Linked DNA regions of Homo sapiens. The protein of the gene in region 1 purifies or fractionates together with the protein of each later gene. This does not show direct contact. Each region holds a gene or a part of one and is shown in the gene's direction. Other genes may lie near its edges.

Region 1 (7,934 bases):
TTTGAAAGGGAATCAGAGAGGAGAGCATAACCCAGAAAGTGAGGACGCCCTGGCGAGGGGAAGGGTCTGGAGGGCAGCCCCACTGACCTGCTCCCTGCCTGTGGAGCCGAAGCGTGGGCTCTGGGCTGGGCTTGAGGGCGAGTGCTCAGGGTGGGGCCCTGCTGTCCTGGCAGCCGCTGGCTGAACCCTCCAGACTGGAGTGAGTGGAACCAGGAGTAACTCATACATCTGCCCACTTGCTCATCAACAAACAGGGAACACCTGCTGTACAAACCCACAATGCTGGGCATTCACTGGAGGGGCAGACATCAAATAATCTCTCTAAATATTGTATCCTATCGCATCATATTATATTAAGCTAAGAATAGTTCTCCAAGAAAGTGGCAACACCTCCTTGTAAAGGGAAGTTTAAAGAACTCTGAGCCTGGTTGGTCTGAGAAATTGGAGGATGGCAACAGTCAGGGCCCCAGGAGAGGAGAAAGAGACACCTCCTGGAAGAACTGGTCAGAAGCAGAAGGGAGAGGCTGGTGGCCTGTCTCTGTGAGCCCCACCTGCCTGGGGTGGGAGGGGGCCCGGGCAGGGCTATGGCATGCGCTGGTGTGTGCCTGCCTGGGGTGGGAGGGGGACCCGGGCAGGCTGCGGCACGCACTGGTGTGTGCCCGTCTCTTGGACAAACCATCTGAGATGTTCTTCCAGCTGCTCTGCCTCCATCGCTGAGCCTCCTGCTGAGCTGAGTAGGGTCCCCGGCTGGCCTGGCACTAAACTCTGCTTAGATATGTCCAAGGGTCTCTGCTTTTGCCCCAGCGAGGAAAGGCAGGATGCTTCTCCAGACTGGGAGGGCTTTCCTAAGGCAGACACCTGAGCCAAGACAGGTGGAAGCTGGGAGGCATGTGCCTGGGGTGGAGGGTGCCTGGGGCGGAGCGTGCCTGGGGCTTCCAGAGATCAGCAAGGCTGAGGCATGAGAGGCAGAGTGGAGGCTGCGAGACGGGTCCAGGAGGAGACTCAGGCCCAGATCAGGTGTGGCCTCGCATGTAGGGTGACCATGTGCTTCACATAATATGTCCAAACCAGGACATTTCCAAGAATAGGGGGACACGAGTAACGGTTACGCTGGGGCAATGGGCAAAGCCAGGCCAGGCCCAGCATGGCAGGTGGTTGCCTGTTCAAAGGTGTAAACCAAAATGTATTTGAGGCAGGTCTCAATCAACTTAGAGGTTGATTTTTGCCAAGGTTAAGGACATGGCCCAGGGCACAGCCTCAGGAGGTCCCAAGAACACACACCCAAGGTGACAGGGTATAGCTTGGTTTTATACATTTTAGGGAGACTGAAGTTACAAGAAAAGACATAAAGCAATATCTGGAAGGTATACATTGATTTGGCCCAGAAAGGTGGGACATCTTGAAGCGGGGTGTGGGGCCTTCCAGGTCACAGGTGGATTACAGGATTTCCTGATTGGCCGTTGGGTAAAACAGAGTTAAGATCTGCCTGAAGACTTGATATCAGCTTGAGTGAAAATAAAGGGGGTTGTGGAAGCCAAGGTTCTTGTGGATGAAGCCTCCGGCTAGCAGGCTTCAGAGAGAGTGAATGTGAATGTCTACTATCAGGGCCTTGAAAGGTGTCAGACTCTCCAGAAAGACCTAGTGACGGACAGGGATTCTCCACAGAGTGCAAGATTCCCCAACAGACAGCTTTGCTGGGCCATTTCAAAATCTGTCAAAGAAATATATTTCTTCAGGGCCTGCTGGCCGTCATGTGATGCTCTACTAGAGTCTGGTGGGAATTTGCTATCTTATTGCTATGAACAGTCTGTTTGGTCAGCCTTAGGAGCTCTGTTTTTATGTTAATGTTGGTCATGAACTCCAGGAAAGGAGGGTGTAGTGAGGCCTGCCCAACCCCCTCTCCCTGTCATGGCCTGAACTCGTTTTTCAGGTTTCTTTGGGATCCCTTTGGCCAAGAGGGGAGTCCATTAAGTTGGTTGGGGGGCTTAGAATTTTATCTTTTGTTTACAAAGGCATATTGAGAACTTTGGTCATTTTTCTAAGAGCATCAGGTAACCGCAGGGTTTGGGGTGTTCAGCAAAGCCCGTGATTACACACACACTGGACCTTCAGAGAAGTGTGCCATCTAGCTACGACCACAGCCATTTCTCCTGGTCTACCCCGTCCATCGGGACGCACTGCTGCAGGGGAAGACTCACCCATCATGCAACCCCTCACTGCACCCTGGACAGTCACTTCTAAAATGCAGGCCCTCAACAAGGTATTGACGTGTGCATTAATCACCTTGATTATTACAGAGCCCCTCTGCGGTGGAAGGGCAGGTGCTGTCATTCCTACAAATGCATAGAGCTCAAAGTTCATCGCTCACCCAGGTGGAACCGGGAGAAAAAGATGCGTTTGTCGAAGGCACCCAGCGCCACGAGCTTTCTTCACAAGCCAAGCAGCCCGCCTAAGGCCCAGGTCTCCCTCTCCTCGTCTCCCACTAGATACACATGGATGAAGCCAGATAGATAACAGGTAGAGGATAGATGACAGGCAGATGACAGATAGGCAGATGATAGATGATCGATAGATGACAGGCAGATGATGGATGACAGGCAGATCACAGATATGATAGATCACAGATAGATGACAAATAGGCAGATGATAGATGACAGGCAGATGACAGATAGGCAGATGATAGATGACTGATAGATGACAGGCAGATCACAGATATGATAGATCACAGATAGATGACAAATAGGCAGATGATAGATGACAGGCAGATGACAGATAGGCAGATGATAGATGACTGATAGATGACAGGCAGATCACAGATATGATAGATCACAGATAGATGACAAATAGGCAGATGATAGATGACTGATAGATGACAGGCAGATCACAGATATGATAGATCACAGATAGATGATAAATAGGCAGATGATAGATGACAGGCAGATGACAGATAGGCAGATGATAGACTGATAGATGACAGGCAGATGACAGATAGGCAGATGATAGATTGATAGATGACAGGCAGATGACAGATAGGCAGATGATAGGTGATTGATAGATGCCAGCCAGATGACAGATAGGCAGATGATAGGTGATTGATAGATGACAGCCAGGTAGATCACAGATATGCCGGATCACAGATGATGGATAGGCAGATGATAGATGACAGATAATAGATGATAGATTACAGATAGACGATCGATAGGAAGATAATAGATGATAGGTACATGACAGATCATAGATAAATGACAGAGAGGTAGATGATAGATGATAAATAGGTAGATGGTAGGTAATAGATAGGTAATAGATCGCAGAGAGATGATAGGTAGATGATAGCTGATTGATACATGATACAGAGATGATAGGTACATGATAGATGGATAGATCATAAATGACAGCAGATGATAGATGATAAATAGGTAGATGACAGGTTATAGATAGGTAAATTACAGATGAAAGATAGGCAAATGATAGATGATAGGTACATAATAGATGGATAGATCATAGATAATAGATGACAGGTAGGTGATAGAGGAAAGGTGGATGATAGATGATAGGCGCATGATGATAGATACCTGACAGATGGATAGATGAAAGGTAGATGATGGACAGGTAGATGATAGATGACAGATAATAGATGACAGATTACAGATAGATGATCGATAGGAAGATGATAGATGATAGGTACATGACAGATCGATAGATGATACGTAGATGATGGATAGGTAGATGATAGATAATGTGGATGATAAACATCAGATGATAGAAAAATCGATATCTGTGAATACGGGGGGTGGGGGATCAGAGAGAAGCAAATGATAAGCCCAATGAGGTAAATGTTAATGACCGAATCCACAAAAAGGATAAAAAGGAGTTATTTGTAATATTCTTATTCTTCTAATTTTTGTGTAAGTTTGAAATTATTTCCAAATAAAAAATTAAAACAACACGAACTTAACTTGTATCTCTCATTCCAGTGCTTTCCACTTGCTGGGGAACGCCGAGCTCTCCTGGGTTGGTCACGCGGGCGCCTTGGGAGGCCGCGCAGTCCCGCGTGGGGCGCGGCGGGGCGGCCCCAGTGGCACCGCGTGAGTCCCCGCCCAGCGTTCCCCACCCGCCGCCGCGTTTGCGGGGAGAGAATGACCCCCGTTTTGCAAACGCAGGACACAAAACCCGCCACCCAGCTGAGGCTGGGACCCACCTATACCCCCGTCTGCGTTTTTCTCCAGCTTTCTGTTCGACCTGATGTCCTCTTTGAGGCTGCGGGGATCCCCACCAAAAAGCACTCTGATTTTCTCCATTTTCAGATGCCCCAACCTAGCCCCACTGGCTACAAAGACGGCGCGCCCACCCCGGACGGGTCTCTGGCCGCTTTCTTGGGCTTCCGCAGTTGTTTAGAAAGGCAGGTACAGGCGGCCGCAAAGGCATCCGCCCCTTCCGAGCGCACACCTGGCCCGGTCCTCCTCTCCCGGCCCCGCGCCGGCCGCTCTCCCCCAGTTCTCTCTACTCGGAGCCGGGCGCGCACTGAGCACCCCGCTTCCCAGCCCCTCCGCCCACAGATCGGGGAGGCGCGGCCGGGAGGGGGGCGTGGGCCAGGGAAGAGGGGAGGAGAACGGAGAGAGAGGCTGGGGGGGTCGAGGAGACCAGAGGGAGCGCGCGCGGCGGGGACAGAGAGCCCAGGGGCGAGGAGAGGGCGCGGGGCGCAGCGGAAGGGGAAGTGGGGGGCGGTGAGGAGGGGCGCGGAGCGGGGGTTCTCGGGGGAGGAGGGAGACGAGGATTGGGGCAGCGCGGGGCGGGGACAGGGGCGGGGGGCGGAGCGGCGGGGCGCGTGGGGGACGGGCGTGCATTGAGCGCGCTCCAGCTGCCGGGACGGAGGGGGCGGCCCCCGCGCTCGGGCGCTCGGCTACAGCTGCGGGGCCCGAGGTCTCCGCGCACTCGCTCCCGGCCCATGCTGGAGGCGGCGGAACCGCGGGGACCTAGGACGGAGGCGGCGGGCGCTGGGCGGCCCCCGGCACGCTGAGCTCGGGATGCGGACGCTGCTGCCTCCCGCGCTGCTGACCTGCTGGCTGCTCGCCCCCGTGAGTGCGCCCGCGACCCCCGCCCCACGGCGCCTCGGACCCGGTTCTCCCCTTCCGAGAAGAGCGCTCCTCCCGCCGGTCTTCGCCTTCCTCCCGGGTGCTGGAGCGCGGGCGGGGTCCGGGAGAGGGAGCGGGGTCGCCCGGGGTCCGGAGCTTCCTCCCGGAGAGCGTGAAGCGCTGAGCTCCGGTCCCGCCGGGTTGCGGGACTCGGGTTGGGAGGCTGCCTGCGCCCTTCCCCGCGCCCCACCGTCCGGGGTTTGCTGGAAACGGGATCGTTTCTTCCTGGACGCGTCAACGATGAGCTCGTTCGGGGCCGTCCCGGGAGCTGGGAGCTGCGGGCGCCTGCGCGGGCTGCGCGTTTCACGGGGAGATCGGGGTTGGCGTTGGCCGCAGATGCCTCTCGGTCCCTCCCTGTACTTACTGGTTAGTTTTAGTGTCGGGGGGACGTGGCGTCGGTTAAATAAAGTTTCCTTTTGGAAATAGTTGCTTTTTCCCAAGGGCACTGGAGGAACTAACTGCTCATAAGTTTGTTGATTAAGTGCCTTCGCACATGGAGTTCTGAATTATTCCCTCTGTGAACCTTAAAAAAAAAGGAAAGAAAAAAGAAAGAAAAAAACCCGAGCCTTGTTTCTTGCTTTCCTCTTGGAGACTGAAGCGGGTTTGCGGTGCGCGCGGTTTTCGTGCGCGTCGCAGCCGAGGCAGGTCTGGATCGATCCGCGGCCCCTCCGCAGCTGGGAGGCTGCGCTGCTGACCCGACAGTGTCATTGATTAACCGGCGACGCCCGGTCTGCAGCGGGGCTCGAGCCACACTCCCTGGCCTTGCGCGGAGGCGCAGCTCGGCTTTCCTCCCTCGAGGGTGGGCGCTTTGCGGAGCGGGTCCTTGGAAAGTAACGGGTTTTATCACGGTTAATGCTGCTTTCATTGCTAAAATGTCCTAAAAGAAGTCATTGCTGTGCATATTCCAGGAACGTCAGGTATTATTAATGTCTTTTACACTTTAACAAAGTTTTTCTTTTTACATCAATATAATTTCCTTAATTCTGAAATTTAAGCCACTTACTTGTCCTGCATGAAAACAGAGGACTTGGAGCCCAAAGTCAGTGCCTGGTGCTGGTTCAGTCACGAGCAAGAAGCAAGCTCGGGGCTCTTTTAAATGGGGCTGAAGGTGGCAGAAGTTCCAGCATTGTTTTCCCCTTAATTCTGTTAGGATATTGTGTTCCTGGTTGGAACTCTCATTGACCATTTCAATAGTAAGATAACTAAACATAGATGGCCATAGTACGCCCAACAGTATGATTCTCTTTAGTTACTACTTTAGTACAAGTAGAATTTTGGTCGGTGGTGGGGGAGGGGGAAGATCAAGACCAAAAGGATGGGTGGGGGGAGCCCTCCTTAAGCCCCCAAGGGCCGCTTGGCAGGCCTGTGCTGACTTCGCGGAGGGCGTGAAGAACAAGGTAGAAACGGTGCCTTCTGAGAGGAAGCATTGTGTAGTTCTGCCTTCTTCTCACATTAGTAGACTGTTAATTACTATCTTTGTGGCACCTTTCGCTCCCCTGATGGATCCTGACTGGAAATCGCCCCCTCTTCTCTGTGGGGCCACAATGGTGTGATTCCCCCACCTCTGCCTCCCTCCTCATCTTGCTGATTTCTTTGAATATCTCTTCCACCCCAAATTCTAGTCAAAACGATTGCAGTTTTATCTGTAGTTAGAGGGTTAAGCTTTGAACATGTACCAACACCTTTAAAAATAAAGCCCTTCTATCACGGCTCTTTCCCGGGTGGAGGCCGTCCTCGGAGGAAGCGGCACAGTCCACAGGCATCCGCTTAAACCAAACCAAAGGGTGTGAAACGGAGGAGCCGGGTATGGAGAGATGAATGGAGTAAAGAGCTCTGTTGCCTCCAAATTAGTACCGATGTATTCTGTTAGTAAGTTCATTTTCCTGCTCAGAAAAAAAATTCTATTAGATTTTGTGTTTGTTTTATAATACCTTTACAAAGTAAATAGTGAAGTTTTTAAAAAATGCCAGAAAAATCAAGGTGATTGGTTTTAAATGCATTTTGGTTTGGAAGCAGTTTAAAGCTGTGAGGTTTGGGGTTGTTTTTGTAGAATTTTTGCTTGCTTTTCTTCTTCTTGTGGAATTTTTAGTTATTAATATTTCTTTTAACCGTGAACAGGTGAACAGCATTCACCCAGAATGCCGATTTCATCTGGAAATACAGGAGGAAGAAACAAAATGTGCAGAGCTTCTGAGGTCTCAAACAGAAAAACACAAAGGTAAGGCAGAGGCTTGGTGAGTAAGAACTCCCGTGACATTCTCACCCGGGAATGCGCCTCACTCAGCTGTGGTTCAGGGTCACCACCTGCATCTTAAAAAAAAAAAAAGAAAAAGAAAGGCCACTTCCCATTGTTTGTTAATGAACTACTGGTAAAACTCAGAGAGAGTTGGATAGGTAGGGTCTTCACACACACCTTTAAAAAGATAACCTTAATCCTTAGCAGTAACAGTTTCCATGGTTTGAGATGATAGCAACAGTTACTAAAACAATTTCATGGGCTTTGTTATGCTTTGCAAAAGCAGCTTCAGTTTTCCAGGGGATAAGCATTTATCTGAATTCTTGCATTTTAAATTCTTAGCTATAGGACAGATGATTTTGATCTGGTTAAGGATGGTGGGTACTTGGCAGAAAGCAAACAGGAAAATGGGACTTTGGTTGTGCTGAAGACGGGCCTGCGGTGAACACTGTGAACGTGCAGATCGCCTTCTCCGGTTTGACAGAGGCATGCTGGGCCATCATGCTCCAACAGGGCCTGCTATCAACCTGTTTATAGACTCTGCCCTGGGATAGCACCCGGCCTAT
Region 2 (7,383 bases), on another chromosome or scaffold:
ACTCTGGTTGTTGATGACTGAAGTGCAGGTGCAGAGGCAGGTTGCCACTGTTTTGACCCCCCACCAGCTGAACCTCTTTCCAAGGGTTTTAAAAGAATAGCACCTGTTTTGTTTGTTTGCTTCCCTTTTACTCCATTTATGAGTCAGATATTGAAGGATTAGGATATTCAAAAGCAATCACTTAGGCAGGGGAAAGTAGAAAGCTACTGCATATAACCAGGGAAAGACACAGGCTAAGAAAAGACCTGAGAAAACCTTAAGCTTTCACCCGAGGCTGATCCTGATCCCCAGCACAGAGACAATTACAAAAGCCCAGCAAACATGGGGGCAGGAGAATCTTATTTTCAGATTCACCACATTATGAGATTCAAATGTTCAATTTTCAACAACAACAAATCATAAGGATTTAAAGTGAAGCCAAATGTGGTGGCATGTGGTTGTAGTCCCACTTAATTGGTTGTTACTGGGCAACATAGTGAGACCCCATCTCTAGTTGAAAAATAAAATTTTTAAAAAAATCACAAGACATACAAATAAACAGGAAAGTATGGTCAATTCAGAAGAACAAAATAAATCAACTCAAACTATTCCCACAGAAGCCAAGATAGATGTCTGAGTTAATAGACAAAGGCTTTAAAACAACTATTTTGAAGTCGTTCGAAGAACTAACAGGGCTGGGCGTGGGGTGGCTCACGCCTGTAATCCCAGCGCTTTGGGAAGCCAAGGTGGGCAGATCACCTGAGGTCAGGAGTTCGAGACCAGCCTGGCCAACATGGTGAAACCCTGTCTCTACTAAATACAAAAATTAGCTGGGCATGGTGGCGTACGCCTGTAATCTCAGCTTTTCAGGAGGCTGAGGGAGGAGAATTGCTTGAACCTGGGAGGCGGAGTTTGCAGTGAGTTGAGTTCCTGCCACTGCTCTCCAGCCTGGGTGACAGAGTGAGACTCTATCTCCAAAAAAAAACAAACAAACAGAAAAAGGACTAAAGGAAGACATGAACAAAGTCAGGAAAACAATGTATGAATAAAATTAGACTATCATTAAAGAGAAATTATAAAAAGGAGCTGAGGCCAGGTGTGATGGCTCATGCCGGTAATCCCAGCACTTTGGGAGGCCAAGGCTCGTGGATCATGAGGTCAGGAGTTCGAGACCAGCCTGGCCAACATGGTGAAACCTCATCTCTACTAAAAATACAAGAACTAGCTGGGTGTGGTGGCATGCCTGTGTTCCCAGCTACTCAGGAGGGTAAGGCAGGAGAATCACTTGAACCCAGGAGGTGGAGGTTGCAGTGCACCCAGATTGCACCACTGCACTCCAGCCTGGGTGACAGAGCGAGACTCTTAGAAAAAAAAGGAGCTGAAATGAAATTCTAGACCTGAAAGATACAGTAACTGAAATGAAAAATTTACATAGAGGGGTTCAAAAACAGATTTGAATGAGCAGAAGAAAGAACCAGCAAATTTGAATATATTTCTTTGTAAAATACCCGCGGAACCCTGTTCCTTCGTTTTACCTCCTGCTTCCTTAGCTCAAGCCTTCCTCATCTTAGGCAGCCTCCAAACTATTCTATCAACCTCCCCTTTTCCCTGCTCTAGTTTTACTAGAGTGATCTTTAAAAAAACCCCAAATCTAATATTGTCACTGTCCTTTAAAATATCCAAGGGCACCCGTGTGTCTATAGAGTGAACTTCAGTTTCCTTATTTTAGCATTCAAGGACCTTCCTATTTTGGCTCCAGCCTACTACATTGCTTTATTTCACACCAGCCCCACATTCCATTCATATACTGTAACCACATTTTCTTGGGTACAAAGTCACTTACTGAAAAAAAGTTGAGCATATTTGGAAACCAAAATTCATTTTCTGTGAATGGGATATCAATATATAGCATTGGTAGGCATTGAAACAGACTATAGTCTATTTTTAAAATGGATTAGATGATAAAAACAACATGTATGTCATCACTAATCCAGTGGTCAATATTAGCATAACTCTGTAAGATACAATAAATGTTATATCTATTGTAGATACAATGTTATGTATCTAACATAATATCTAACATGTTAGATTCATAACGTTGTATGTAATATAATGAAACATGAAGTATAACCTGTCACTTGTGAGGTATACTAGTCTGATATGTTTGACTTGAATCCACTGAGTCTTCAAATATAACTTTCTTGTTCAAGAAATACAAGGCTTGCAGGAACAAGCTCAATGACTTCATGAGGAAGCAACCACTCAGATAAAAACATTTTGCACTTCAAGTGGCCTGATTTCTACAGTGAACAAGAATCTTTTAATTTTTTTTTAAGTGCCATAATTAAAAAGTCAAGGGATGTAACCAGATGGAATGTATGGTCCTGAATTGGATAATTTGGGTATACTGGTTGTAGAAAAATATAATTTGGTCAACAGAATATTTGATTGTAGTTAGGTATTATGTGAGAGGAAATTTTCCTGTAACATTACTGAGTTAAGAAAGCCAACTGTAAAAATAACTTTAGATGGATAGAAAATGTGAATGTGATCTAGGAATTAGGTGAGAAGAAAATGTACTGAAATAAGGTAGATATTTTTAATTGAAAAAGGAGATGACTAAAGTGATCTCATTTTGAAAAAAAAAATACACACACACAGAAGGATATACTCTAAAGTATTAACATTGGCCCTGGGAATGCCATGGTTTTTTTTTGTTTTTCATTAAAACATAGAGACACGGTCTCACTATGTTGCCCAGGCTGGTCTCGAACTCCTAGGCTCAAGCCATCCTCCCACCTCAGCCTCCCAAAGTGTTAAAATTACAGGCATGAGCCACCACACCTGGCCTTTTTTATTAAAAAAAATTTTTTTTAAATGCAATGTTTTCTTTTTTTGTTGTTGTTTTAGCTTGTGTCTATTCTCCAAAGCATGTTGTACTGATTGTGTAGTACAATTTTATTTAAAAATGTATGTTAAGATTTACATAAATATTTGGGGTGTCCATGAATCAAGAAATACATGAAAGTATGGGCACCAAAACGTTAAAAGTGGTTTTGTTGGGAGTTCAGGGGATTTTACTTTCTCCCTAATACTTTATTCTTTGAATATCTTGAAATGGATATTTTGTAACTGTATAAGGAGAAAGGAAGCGAAACTATTTTTCTGCAGGGGTACACCCACATCTATTGTATTAGACAAATCACAGAGGGATTGCAACAGAACACAGATTTTTCTCACTGTTTTTTCTCTGGTTGATCGGGATGCATTATCCACCAGAAAACACTGTAGACGACTCACTCACCAGGAAAAGAGCATATGCCAGTTGGAATAAATAAAGGGGAAGAGTAAGGAAGAGGCTGTAGAATTATTTTATAAATTATCAAGTCTTATGAGCCAGGTGCAGTGGTGCATGCCTATGTACAGTCCCAGCTACTCAGGAGGCTGAGGTGGTAGGATAGCTTGAGCCCAGGAGTTCGAGGGTGGAGTGTGATATGATCGTCTGTGAATAGCCACAGCACTGCATCCTGGACAAGATAGGGTCTCTTTAAAAATAAGACTTAACTAGCACTTTAATAATCATTGTTTTTGTTCCCAACTGCATTGTACATTCATTGAGGACAGGGACTTTAAACTTCATTATATTGCTGTTGCTGTGTTTCACCTTTGAATGATTTTTAAATAAAAATCTCATCTTTGAGTCACAATCTGATGTAACCTTGTCCATTTCTGTCCTCTTGTGTGCCTTAAATGCCTTTAGGCAGCTGTGTTGTACCAGTGGTTTTAGGACTTGGCAGTCGGAAGTTTTGACTTCTAGACTGGATTCTGTAACTAAAGCTAAATTACTTTATAAAAGGAGAAAAATGGTACCATTCTGACGGGTTTGTGGTGAAGCTGAAATGAGATAGCCACATAAAGAACCATCACAATCCCTGACACACCGTGCGCCCTCAGTAAATGCCAGGTGAATTTTATTACACTGTGAAGTACTGATTTTCAAACAGGACTTGCACATGAAAGGTGAGCAGGGGGATTCCTTGCTCAAGCACCAGTACTCTGGGGTTGTACCCTTTGTTAGGCTCAACAGGTACTACCCAGTCCGCTTCCATCGTCCCCAGTCCCGGCTGCAGTCACGTAGTTGGCTGTCCAACTCCAAATACACAAGACAGCCCAGGTCCAGCTCACAGCCAGTGCACTTCGCGCAGGCGCACAGTCCTGAGGCGGGCTGAAAGCCCAGGTGGGGCTCGGAGAAGAGGAAGCTCCGCCTCGCTTCCCGGTATTGGGCCAATAGGGTCGCTCGTCATGGTCGCAGACCTATGAGACGGGGCAGGGGGCGGGGCGGAGGGCGGAAGAAGTCGCTCTCACGTGAGTAAAGGGGTGGGGGGGCGGGGACAGGGCGGTTTGGGAGGCCCAGGCGGCGGAGCCTCCGGGACGGCGAGCGGCGGGCGGCGGAGGAGGAGACGGCAGGTCGGGTAGGGCCGTGTTTCCCCTCCTCCTCCTCCCACCCTCCTACCTACCAACCCCAGGGGTATTTTCCGACGGCCCCTGCGGGGAGCCAAGCTGTCTTCTCATCCCGCGGGGTCGGGCCAGTGGAGCTGCTCTCAGCTCCCTCGACGGGCCGAGTTCTGAGGGGAGCCGTGATTGGGGGGAGGGGGAACTGCGACGGAGGGGAGAGGGCGCATGCGCAGGCTGGGCCGCTCTGGGAGCCCCTGCCCAAACCGGTTCCCCCTGTCTGTGTGGGTGCCGGTCTTCTGAGTCTTGCGTTTTTGGCCCTCCCTCTGGTCCCCCAGCAAAGCCGGTTTGTGTCTTGACTTTAATGTTTTATGCTTGGTCCTATTTGGGAATCCAGCCGCTCCCCCCCGCCTCAGTTTCTCCCCATTGCTCACTAGGCCTGTATCTGTGACTTAAGCTAGCCTGGGCCTCAGGCTGTCCTGGGCTGCGCCTAAATTTCAAAGACTTGCTAGTTTTCACTGTCGCTTTGCCATCTCAGGTTGGTCTTTCAGTCTCATTTCCCCGTCTGCAATTAAAGCGTTCTTGGCATCCCAGTCTTCTCATCTCCTTGAAGCAGCTACCCCAGTACCTCATCGCTGTGTCTTTTGATTATCCGCACCCTTAGGGTTTTACGTGTTGAGCCAAAGGATAACCTCAAGACTTCCAGGAGTTCGCTGTCCATTGCCTGGTAGTACTTTGGTCTCTGCTCTTCTGCATCCAGACTGTTTATCATCTGCTCCTGCGTTTCACGCATCTGCATACCTTTGGTTACTCGAGAATTCTTTTTTGGAAACAAATGTCCTAGGAGACCGTGTTAAGTGATCATGCTGCTAGTGTTCCCGCTACTAGTGCTCCGTTAGTTTTAAATCATGTTCCAACTTGAATTTGAGGTCTTTTGACTTTCGTTGGCTTTTTGTCAGGGAAAAAAACCTGTTAGGGACAGGGTTTCACAATTCCTTTTATATTTCCATTCACATGTATTTACAAACGTGTGCCTGGAGTAGTAAGTACACAATAAGTGAGTTTCCAGCTGTTTTTGTTTCGGAAACAAAAAACAAAACAAAACAAAACAAAAAAACAACGGAAGGTGAATGGAATTGTGTTTGTAACATTAAACTGATGTTTGAAAAGTAGTTGGGAAAAAAAGCTTAGGTACTAAGGAGGGTTCATCCAACTTTTTTTTAAACGAAGGACGTGTTGCCTTAGTTCAAGTTTGTATAAGGTGCTATTTAATATGTATTGAAGACTTAACTAGAGCTTACTTATGAAAACTGAAAATAGGGGCCGGGTGCGTTCACGCCTGTGATCCAGCATTTTAGGAGGTTGAGGCGGGTGGATCACAAGGTCAGGAGTTCGAGACCAGCCTGTCCAATATGGTGAAACCAGGTCTCTACTGAAAATACAAAAATTAGACGGGCGTAGTGGCAGGCGCCTGTAGTCCCAGCTAATCGGGAGGCTGAGGCAACAGAATCGCTTGAACCCGGGAGGCAGAGGTTGCAGTGGGCCGATATTGTGCCATTGCACTCCAGTCTGAGCAACAGAGCGAGACTCCGTCTCAAAAAAAAAAAAAAAAAAACACAAAAAAACAAAATAGGGAAGAGAAGTCTTTATAAATCTTCCTGTGTAGAGTTCACTTTGTATTAATAAAATTTCAATCCATGATTGATTTTTATGTATTGGTAACATTTAAAATTCATATGTAATTTTAATTCAAGATATTAACTCAGATTCATAATTAAAGTTGAAATATTTGTGGCGTGAGGTGATTCATGCTTGTAATCCCAACACTTTGGGAGTCTGAGGTGGGAGGACTACTTGAGTTGAGAAGTTCAAGACTGCAGTAAGCTATGATGGGTGCCACTGCACTCTAGCCTGGGTAACACAGCCAGTTCCCATCAAAAAATAAAAAATAAAAAAACAACAAAAAATCTGAGATATAGTCATGTTGTGGTGCACTTTCTTTTTTTTTTTTTTTTTTTTTTTTTTTTTGAGACTGAGTTGTGCTCTTGTTGCCCAGGCTGGAGTGATCTTGGCTCACTGCAACCTCCGCCTCCTGGGTTCAAGGAACTGATTCTCCTGACTCAGCTTGGGATTACAGGCGTGTGCCACCACGCCTAGCTAATTTTTTGTATTTTTACTAGAGACGGGGTTTCATCATGTTGGCCAGGCTGGTCTTGAACTCCTGACCTCAGGTGATCCACCTGCCTCAGCCTCCCAAAGTGCAGGGATTACAGGCGTGAGCCACTGCGCCCGGCCACACTTTCTTTTAATTGAGTGTTATGATTCAGTTTACAGTTAACGCATTGACATTAATAGGTATATATTTGTTTGGAAAGTTAACCTATCAGCTATGTGCATTTTGGCATTTTTGGCATAGTATTTTGTTTGCAGTTTATAAGAGTTGTAGTAATGTAGTGGGAACAGAGACACCTGTTTCCTACCTTTTCTGCTGCATATTGAGAGAACTGTATTATGCACTTTATCTACATGAGGGGCATGGTTTTCCACACAATTTATTAACTGAACTTTGTAGCCCAGCTTCTTTTAAAGAAGTCTGTTGGCTGGGCGCGGTGGCTCACGCCTGTAATCCCAGCACTTTGGGAGGCCAAGGCAGGCGGATAACAAGGTCAGGAGATCGAGACCATCCTGGCTAACACTGTGAAACCCCGTCTCTACTAAAAATACAAAAAATTAGCCAGGCGTGGTGGCAGGTGCCTGTAGTCCCAGCTACTCGGGAGGCTGAGGCAGGAGAATGGCGTGAACCCGGGAGGCGGAGCTTGCAGTGAGCCAAGATCGCACCACTGCACTCCAGCCTGGGCGACAGAGTGAGACTCCGTCTCAAAAAAAAAAGAAGTTTTTGTTTTTTATTCAGTATATTTCCAGCTAAAGGAAAGCCTCCTTTGGAGGTCTCAT
Region 3 (7,271 bases), on another chromosome or scaffold:
AGTTCTCTGTGCTCCAACAAGTTCCCTTTTTAAAAAAGGAAAAGAGGCCAGTTTATTTTGTGATTGTGAGCAAAAAAGAAATGACAAAGGCATCCATCTCCTATTCTCTGCCTTTTGCTCTCAGGAACAGACATTTTTTTCCTTCAGAAGAGATGTGGCTTATTCTAGATGCAGGGGTAATAGTGATGTCTGGGTCGAGGTCTGCATCCTTCACTCTTGGGGAGAGCTGGAGGCAATAGAGCCGGTGTAAGGACACCATCCAACTGTGGCAGCCCTCAGTGGCGCCCTCTTCTAGCTCCTGTGCACCCCGCAGGCCAGCCCTCACTGCTTCCCAAGGCTCTGAGAGCTCACATGCAACCTTTTTTCTCATTGGCTTAATTTCTCTTAAGACCACTTCACAAAAGCTCCATTGTAATCACTATCTGCTCAACTGCTTTCTCTTACTTACAAGTTTAGTAAACACAAACATTCTTCTGTCTAGGTCTTACTGACCTGTAGAAAGTTAACTGATGAATGGTACATTTTAAGTCAAAACATACTCTCTGAACCCCAAACATAGTAGAGCTTTTGGTACTCTTTCCAAAAAGAAGAAAATCATTACACTATTCTATATGGAAAAATTCCAATATATAAGCTGATGCAAATTTTGCCTTGCAAAAAAATCTCAATACCTGTGTTTAGATAAGTACAAATGAAACTTTAAGAAATTCCAGTATCACTGTTTCTCAAACTTGGATATCGTTCAGATCCTTTGTAAGGGGAAAAGATTCTCACAGATATCTAGAGTTAGCTTATAATTTTTTATAATGTTGCATACATATATGTGTATGTATATATGCAAACACAAAACTAAGAGCTCCTGATTTTTATAGATTTTATGCATCTATAAAACTAAAAAAATAAATTGAATACAAACAAAACTACCAAATGAGGAAATGCAAATCTACAATTTTGATTTAATATAAGGAATGATATTTTGCTGGAGCCAATATTCACATGAATATTGTAATACTGTGTGATGACTCAATTCTCCCACTACCCTTTGTTAGTGCAGCACACCACAATATAATTTGCCTATAACTTGGTGTGACCACATCATTTATTTTAAACATCATTCTCTGTTTTTTTTTCCTCACAAGTCTGTAACAATTCACTCAGTACTATTTGCAATCACAAATCCAGCAGTGAAACTGCATTCCCAGAATAATTATAAAGGGCTGATAAATTTATATAGATATTCCACTCCAATAGTAATCCCATACAGGTTAAAATGAGAGACCATTTCATCTATCATATTGGCAAATCTTTTTTTTTTTAAGATAAAATAAATGCCAGTGGGGGTGCGTGTGATGGGCACCACTGAGAGCTTCTGGTGAGAATGAAAACTGGCCTGACATTTCTGGAAGGCAGTTTGACCACGGGTATTCACAGACTTAAGAGTTTTCAAAGCCTTTGAATCAGTAATTCCACTTATAGGTTGCTAGCCTAAGGAAGGAAATAATTTTAAAATGTGGGCAAAGATAATGTGTAAGGATATTCATGGCAATGTTCTTGTTAGCAGTAAAAAATAGGAACTCCTGTATATGTCCAAAAATAGTGGAATAATGAAATACATGAAACTATATCATTAATAATTATGTAGCCATGACAAATAATATTTGTGAACAATTTTAGTGATGGTGGATAGTGCTCAAGATATAATAGTGAAAAAAAGAGGATGGATTATTAACTATATATCCTATAAATATATAGAATACACAACTAAATATTCTATGCAGTTCTATTATGTCACAAATGTAAATATACAAAGAAAAAGATCCAACGGATAAGCCAAAACTATAAGTGCCTTTTTCTGGGATGTGGGTAATTTCTGCTTTATTTTAAAATATTTCCTGAATTTTCCAAGTTTTCTACAATAAGCACACATTTTTTTTTATTATTATTAAGGCAAACAGCCCTGGAAAGGATAGCATTTGAGATTACTTCCTGCTGTGAACAGAGGTACATAAAAGGGCTGTTACTTTGGAGAGGTCTCAGAGTCAGTCTGGACCATCCTAAAATATTCTTTATTATAAGTTGAAATCTGCCTCTCTGCAACGTCCATACACAGGTCGTAGGCTTGCTTTCTTTCTACAGCTATTCAGAATAAGTCTATGAGTGTTGCAGAGATATTTCAAAAGGGTCAGTTTTTTAAAGTAATGGCAAAAACCGCAATTACTTGTGTACCAACCTAATAGCTACCTTTCCACTGCTCACCCCTATGACCCTGCTCTCCCCTACTTCTGCTAATTTCTTTTCCTCTGGATACTTTCAAAAGTTCTCTGTCACACAGGCTTTCTGGTCTCACCAGCTTGCTTATCCTTCTGTAGACAGTCTCTAGTTTAATAGCTTTACTAGAAAAATGTGATATTCAGAACCAAAGGCCGGTTTCCAGCCTTCTAAAGCACAGCTATCATCTTGCCACTCCTCTGCTCGAGTTCCTCTGGAGACTCTCACCAGAAGAGCAGAACACCCCAGCTTAGCGTGCAATGTCTTCCTGGATCTGGTCCTAGCCTTTCCAGCCTCATAGCCCACCACATCTCTAATACACACTACACCAGTGTCTTCAAACTATGGGTTGCTCTGCATCACTGAGTACTGAAATGAATTCAGTAACCAGCACTTAAAAAAAGAGAATAGAATAGAAAATACCAAGTTGCATTGTACACTCTAAGGGCAATTACTGTTTCAGCATATCTATCTATCTATCTATCTATCTATCTATCTATCTATAATGCACACTCACACATATGCGCATACTGTGTGTGTTTTTATACTAGGCCATGGCTGAAATGTATCTTTTTTTTTTTTTGAGACGGAGTCTCACTCTGTTACCCAGGCTGGAGTGCAATGGCACAATCTTGGCTCACTGCTGCAACCTCTGCCTCCTGGGTTCAAGCAATTCTCCTGCCTCAGCCTCCCGAGTAGCTGGGACCACAGGTGCATGCCACCACACCTGGCTAATTTTTGTATTTTTAGTAGAGACAGGGTTTCTCCATGTTGGTCAGGCTGGTCTTGAACTCCTGACCACCTGCCTCAGCCTCCCAAAGTGCTGGGATTGCAGGCATGAGTCACCGCACCTGGCCTGAAATGTATTTCTTACTGTGAGGGATGATTAAAAGAAGGTTGAAAGCCACTGGCCACACCACGGCTACATCAGGCCAATAACTAGTTCCCAAACTTGCTTTGTACTGCCTTTGATCCCACCCTTCCCTCAGCTAGGCATTCTCCCTGCTCTCTGCTACTGAAATCCTTCAAGGCCCTGACAAGATACCACATCCTTCCTTGAGTGTTTCACCCTTTCCCCCTGTCTGTGCGAAAATGGTGGTTCAATGTCTTTCTTTATATTACTCAAAACAGCCTGCCTTGTATTTTGTTATGTCTGTACACTGAATTCTTAGAAAATAAATACCTGGAGGACAGGGCAACACCTTCGGGTCTTCTGAAGGCCCAGAAGTCTAGTGAACCTAGCTGATGCTCAAAAATGTCTGCCCAACCGAATATTTTCTGTATCTCCTTCCAAGAGTATCTTCTGGTGTTCTTCCTCCTGTTTTCTTGACCTATATAGCCCCCAGCAGGCCTAAAATCTGTGTCCTGGGGCTAATGTTACGTACAGTGATGACTCTAGAAACCAGTCTGTTCTGAAAGCTTTCACCTTTCTTCAGGAGCGATAAGAGAAATAAGCATACGTTTTTGTTCATTTTTCAGATGTTTCCTTTATTTGAGACTATGTTTCTCCTGTATTTTTGGTGTTAAGATGTATTTTGGGGAGCAACACTGATGATATATTACAAGATAATAGTTGGTATTTTAGTATGTGTGTGCCTATTGTACTTATTTGACACAATAAATAGGCAATTCTGAGTTCATCTTTTAAAAAAAAAAAAAAGTTAAAAAAAATTTACTGGTTGCAAACTCCAAAAGGCAGGGAATCAACTTCCCTTCTGGGCTGGCTGCAAGTAAGTTCACTTTCTTAAAGGAGGAGCTTTCTCCTCTCACCTCAAGGACTGTTATTTATTTGTCTGCGCTACTCTTTCGACGTTTCCATTCTCTTGGTCCTCAAGATGTGAATCACCCATTTTTTCCGTAGGGGGGAAGACGGCGTATCTCTGGCCCTTTAAATAGGGGCGTGGTGAAGAGGCGCGGACCGCCCAGGAGGGGGAGCAGTGCGAGGAGGAAAGCGGAAGCGCTGCCCGCAGTGGTAGGTAGTGCGCGTGCGTGAGGCTAGAGCAGTGGGTGCGGTCACGTGGGCCGGCGGTCCACGGCCGGAATGGCAGCAAGCTCAGGTAACGAGTTTCCAGAGAGCGGGCCCGTGGAAGGAGACAGGATTGAGGGGCCGTATTCAGGGTAGGAGGAGAGCGCGCGACAGGTCTCTGAGCCTCGGCGTCTCCTCCCCGCGCGACAGCGGCGGGACCTCGGGGAGCGAACAGAGCAGCCCCTGACGGGCTAACCGGACCCGAGCCACGGGCCGGGCGGGGTTGATTCTCGAGTGGAGGGGCGTGTCGTACGTTGGCCCGGAACTGGGTCGGGCAATTTCCACTTACTGGTTCCAAATGAATGTGAAAATTCAAATGGGCTTAAGTAAAAAGGGATTTATTGGCTCCAAACCTGGAAGGGGCTGAGGTATCACTAAATCCAGTGACTCCGGTGATGTATTTGTGTATCTCTCCCTTTCTGCAAAGGGCCAGTAACCCCTCAGTTCCCTATCTACTTTGCGACTATAATTGCAAGCCTCATTCTGTCCTGTTACAGTCGTGCGGCAATTAGGCTGAGGGACTGGCGCGCCCGCTCCCCCGACTGTGAGCCTAGGCGGCGGGTGTCATGCCCCTCCCCACTCCCGGGCGGAACAGGTGTGTAGCCGGTCTGTCGGGCCTGGGAAACAGGTGTGGACCCCTTTAGCCTCCAGGGACTGATATCAAGGTGCCTGAGCCTGAGGCTTAGATGGGGTGTCCACCTCTTAGGATCGGTGCGCACCCTGTGAGGCTGGTTCCAGTTTGTCTCCGCGTGCAAGTTGTGCACCAGAGTGAGGGCAGCAGGGTGAAAGGTGGGCCTCTGAAGTTCGAGGCTACTCCTGTGCCTTGGCCAGTTCTTTGTGCTTGGCATCTGGGGAAGGAGGGAAACAGCTGCTCAGAGTGTCTGGGTGTACAAAATGGGGGTGCTTTACAGGAGGATAGGGTGGGAGGAGGTAGGATCGGTGAGAGGTTCCATGGCCGTGGGTTATCAGGAATAGCTAGCTGGGGAGCCTTCTTTAAATAAGCAGGCCCCCTCCACTTCTTAGATTCTTGTTAGAATGAATAGGAAGGCTTCTGGCCTCTGCACCATCCACCCTCTACCATACTCTACTTTCCCCTACTGAAAAACCCCAAAACCCAAGCAAAACAAGCATGGATGTTAGCTTGTGGTGCTAAACCTTACTCCAAATGTCTGCATTTGGGAGACAATTACATGTTAATTGTCTGTGTATGTCTATGTCTGCCTGTGTGGGTTTGAGGTATATCTAATATAAATGTGGATGGAGAATCTGCATATGTTTGTGTAAGACGTGGGTTTGCTCATGGTTAAATTTAAGCACAGAATAGGTATTGAATCCTCTGGCAATAGCTGGCCTGTTCCATAGAATATGCAATAAAGATAAATGGAAAAAAAATTCGTTGAACTACTGGGCTTTATATGGTCAAAGAGGCATTTGTGAGAAAATTCTTTCCAGAGCTCTAACAGAGTAATATGTTGATTTTTTCTTTATATTTAATATATTTGCTTCGTATCTGGACCATTGTCAGCAGATGGATGTTTTCTGTCTTCCAGAATATTGGGACATGTTGGTGATTCTTAGCTGTATCTCACTATTCCATTGACATTTCAACCAGTGTGACACAAAATGTCAGTTATGTATGTGAATGAGAAGTAAGATCTTTTGAATTTAATGAAGTATGTTTAACTTTGGATCTATTGATAGCTTTCATAGAGTTTAGATCGTATGTTCTCTTGATCCACAGCTGTAGGTGTCATCGGTACATAGTGGTAAGATCAAACTGTTGTATTCTTAACTGAATCTTGAATGAATATTTGACTTATCTTCACGCTGTATGACATTATTAAATGTGTTCTGTGTTTTAGCAAGGAAATATAGCTTTGCGTTGGATTTTTCACTGTTATGAATTTCTTAGGTTTACTGTAATAGCAATTATACTTTTTTAGTCAAAGATATTTCTGTTGCAAGTGACAGAAAATTCAAATGGGCTTAAGCTAAAAGGGATTTATTGGCTCCAAACCTGGAAGGGGCTGGGGTATCACTATATCACTAAATCCAGTGACTCCAGTGATGGAGTACTTGTGTCTCTCTCCCTTTCTGCAAAGGACCAGTAACCCCCAGTTCCCTATCTCCTCTGCAACTGTAATTGCAAGCCTCATTCTTCCTGTTACAGTCATGGGACAGTTAGGGGATATGTTCTGAGAAATGTGTGGTTAGGCAAATTTTGTCATTGTGCATGCATCATAGTGTACTTACACAAACCTAGATGGTGTAGTCTGCTACACACCTAGACTATGTGGGATGGCCTGTTGCTGCTAGGCTATAAACCAGCACAGCATGTTACTGTACTGAATACTGTAGGTGGTTGTAACACAATGGCCAAGTATTTGTATATCTAAACATAGAAAAGGTACAGTAAAAATACAGTTTAAAAGATTGAAAAATGTGAACCTGTGTGGGGCACTTACCATGGATGGAGTTTGCAGGACTGGAAGTTGCTGTGGGTGAGGCAGTGAGTAGTGAGTGAGTGTGAAGGCCTAGGACATTATTGTACACTACTGTAGACTTTTTGAACACTGTACACTTAGGCTACACTGAATTTATTAAAAATTTTTTCTTTCTCCAATAATAAATTAACCTTAGCTTACTGTAATGTAACTTTTATGTTATAAACTTTTTAATTTAAAAAAGTTTTTAACTTCTTTGTGATAAAACTTAGCTTAAAATACAAACACATTGTACAATTAGCTGTACAAAAATATTTTCTTTATATCCTTATTCTGTTAGCTTTTTTCTATTTCAAAAAATTTTAATCTTTAAAAACGAAGACGCAAACACACACATTACTCTAGGCCTACACAGAGTCAGGAAGGTCCCGGTGGAATGTCTTTAGAGGCAGTAACACATAGGGAACTGTCATCTCTTATGATAACAGTGCCTTCTGGAATACCTCCTGAAGGACCTGCCTGAAACTGTTTTA

Evidence for each region.
Region 2: the proteins of VIPR2 (region 1) and RABGAP1 purify together in Homo sapiens (co-immunoprecipitation; 3 studies listed by BioGRID and IntAct, with this or other methods). This does not show direct contact.
Region 3: the proteins of VIPR2 (region 1) and VPS8 purify together in Homo sapiens (co-immunoprecipitation; 3 studies listed by BioGRID and IntAct, with this or other methods). This does not show direct contact.

What each region holds. Positions count from the first base shown.
Region 1 is NC_000007.14:159,141,862-159,149,795, reverse strand, and holds the start of VIPR2 (vasoactive intestinal polypeptide receptor 2 isoform 1 precursor), read left to right. Parts: upstream 1-4,928; 5' UTR 4,929-5,024; coding exon 5,025-5,075; intron 5,076-7,250; coding exon 7,251-7,350; intron 7,351-7,934. UniProt on the Homo sapiens protein: G protein-coupled receptor activated by the neuropeptides vasoactive intestinal peptide (VIP) and pituitary adenylate cyclase-activating polypeptide (ADCYAP1/PACAP).
Region 2 is NC_000009.12:122,936,643-122,944,025, forward strand, and holds the start of RABGAP1 (rab GTPase-activating protein 1), read left to right. Parts: upstream 1-4,377; 5' UTR 4,378-4,451; intron 4,452-4,496; exon of another isoform or gene 4,497-4,606; intron 4,607-7,383. UniProt on the Homo sapiens protein: May act as a GTPase-activating protein of RAB6A. May play a role in microtubule nucleation by centrosome. May participate in a RAB6A-mediated pathway involved in the metaphase-anaphase transition.
Region 3 is NC_000003.12:184,807,901-184,815,171, forward strand, and holds the start of VPS8 (vacuolar protein sorting-associated protein 8 homolog), read left to right. Parts: upstream 1-4,265; 5' UTR 4,266-4,325; exon of another isoform or gene 4,326-4,386; intron 4,387-4,606; exon of another isoform or gene 4,607-4,889; intron 4,890-5,844; exon of another isoform or gene 5,845-5,967; intron 5,968-7,271. UniProt on the Homo sapiens protein: Plays a role in vesicle-mediated protein trafficking of the endocytic membrane transport pathway.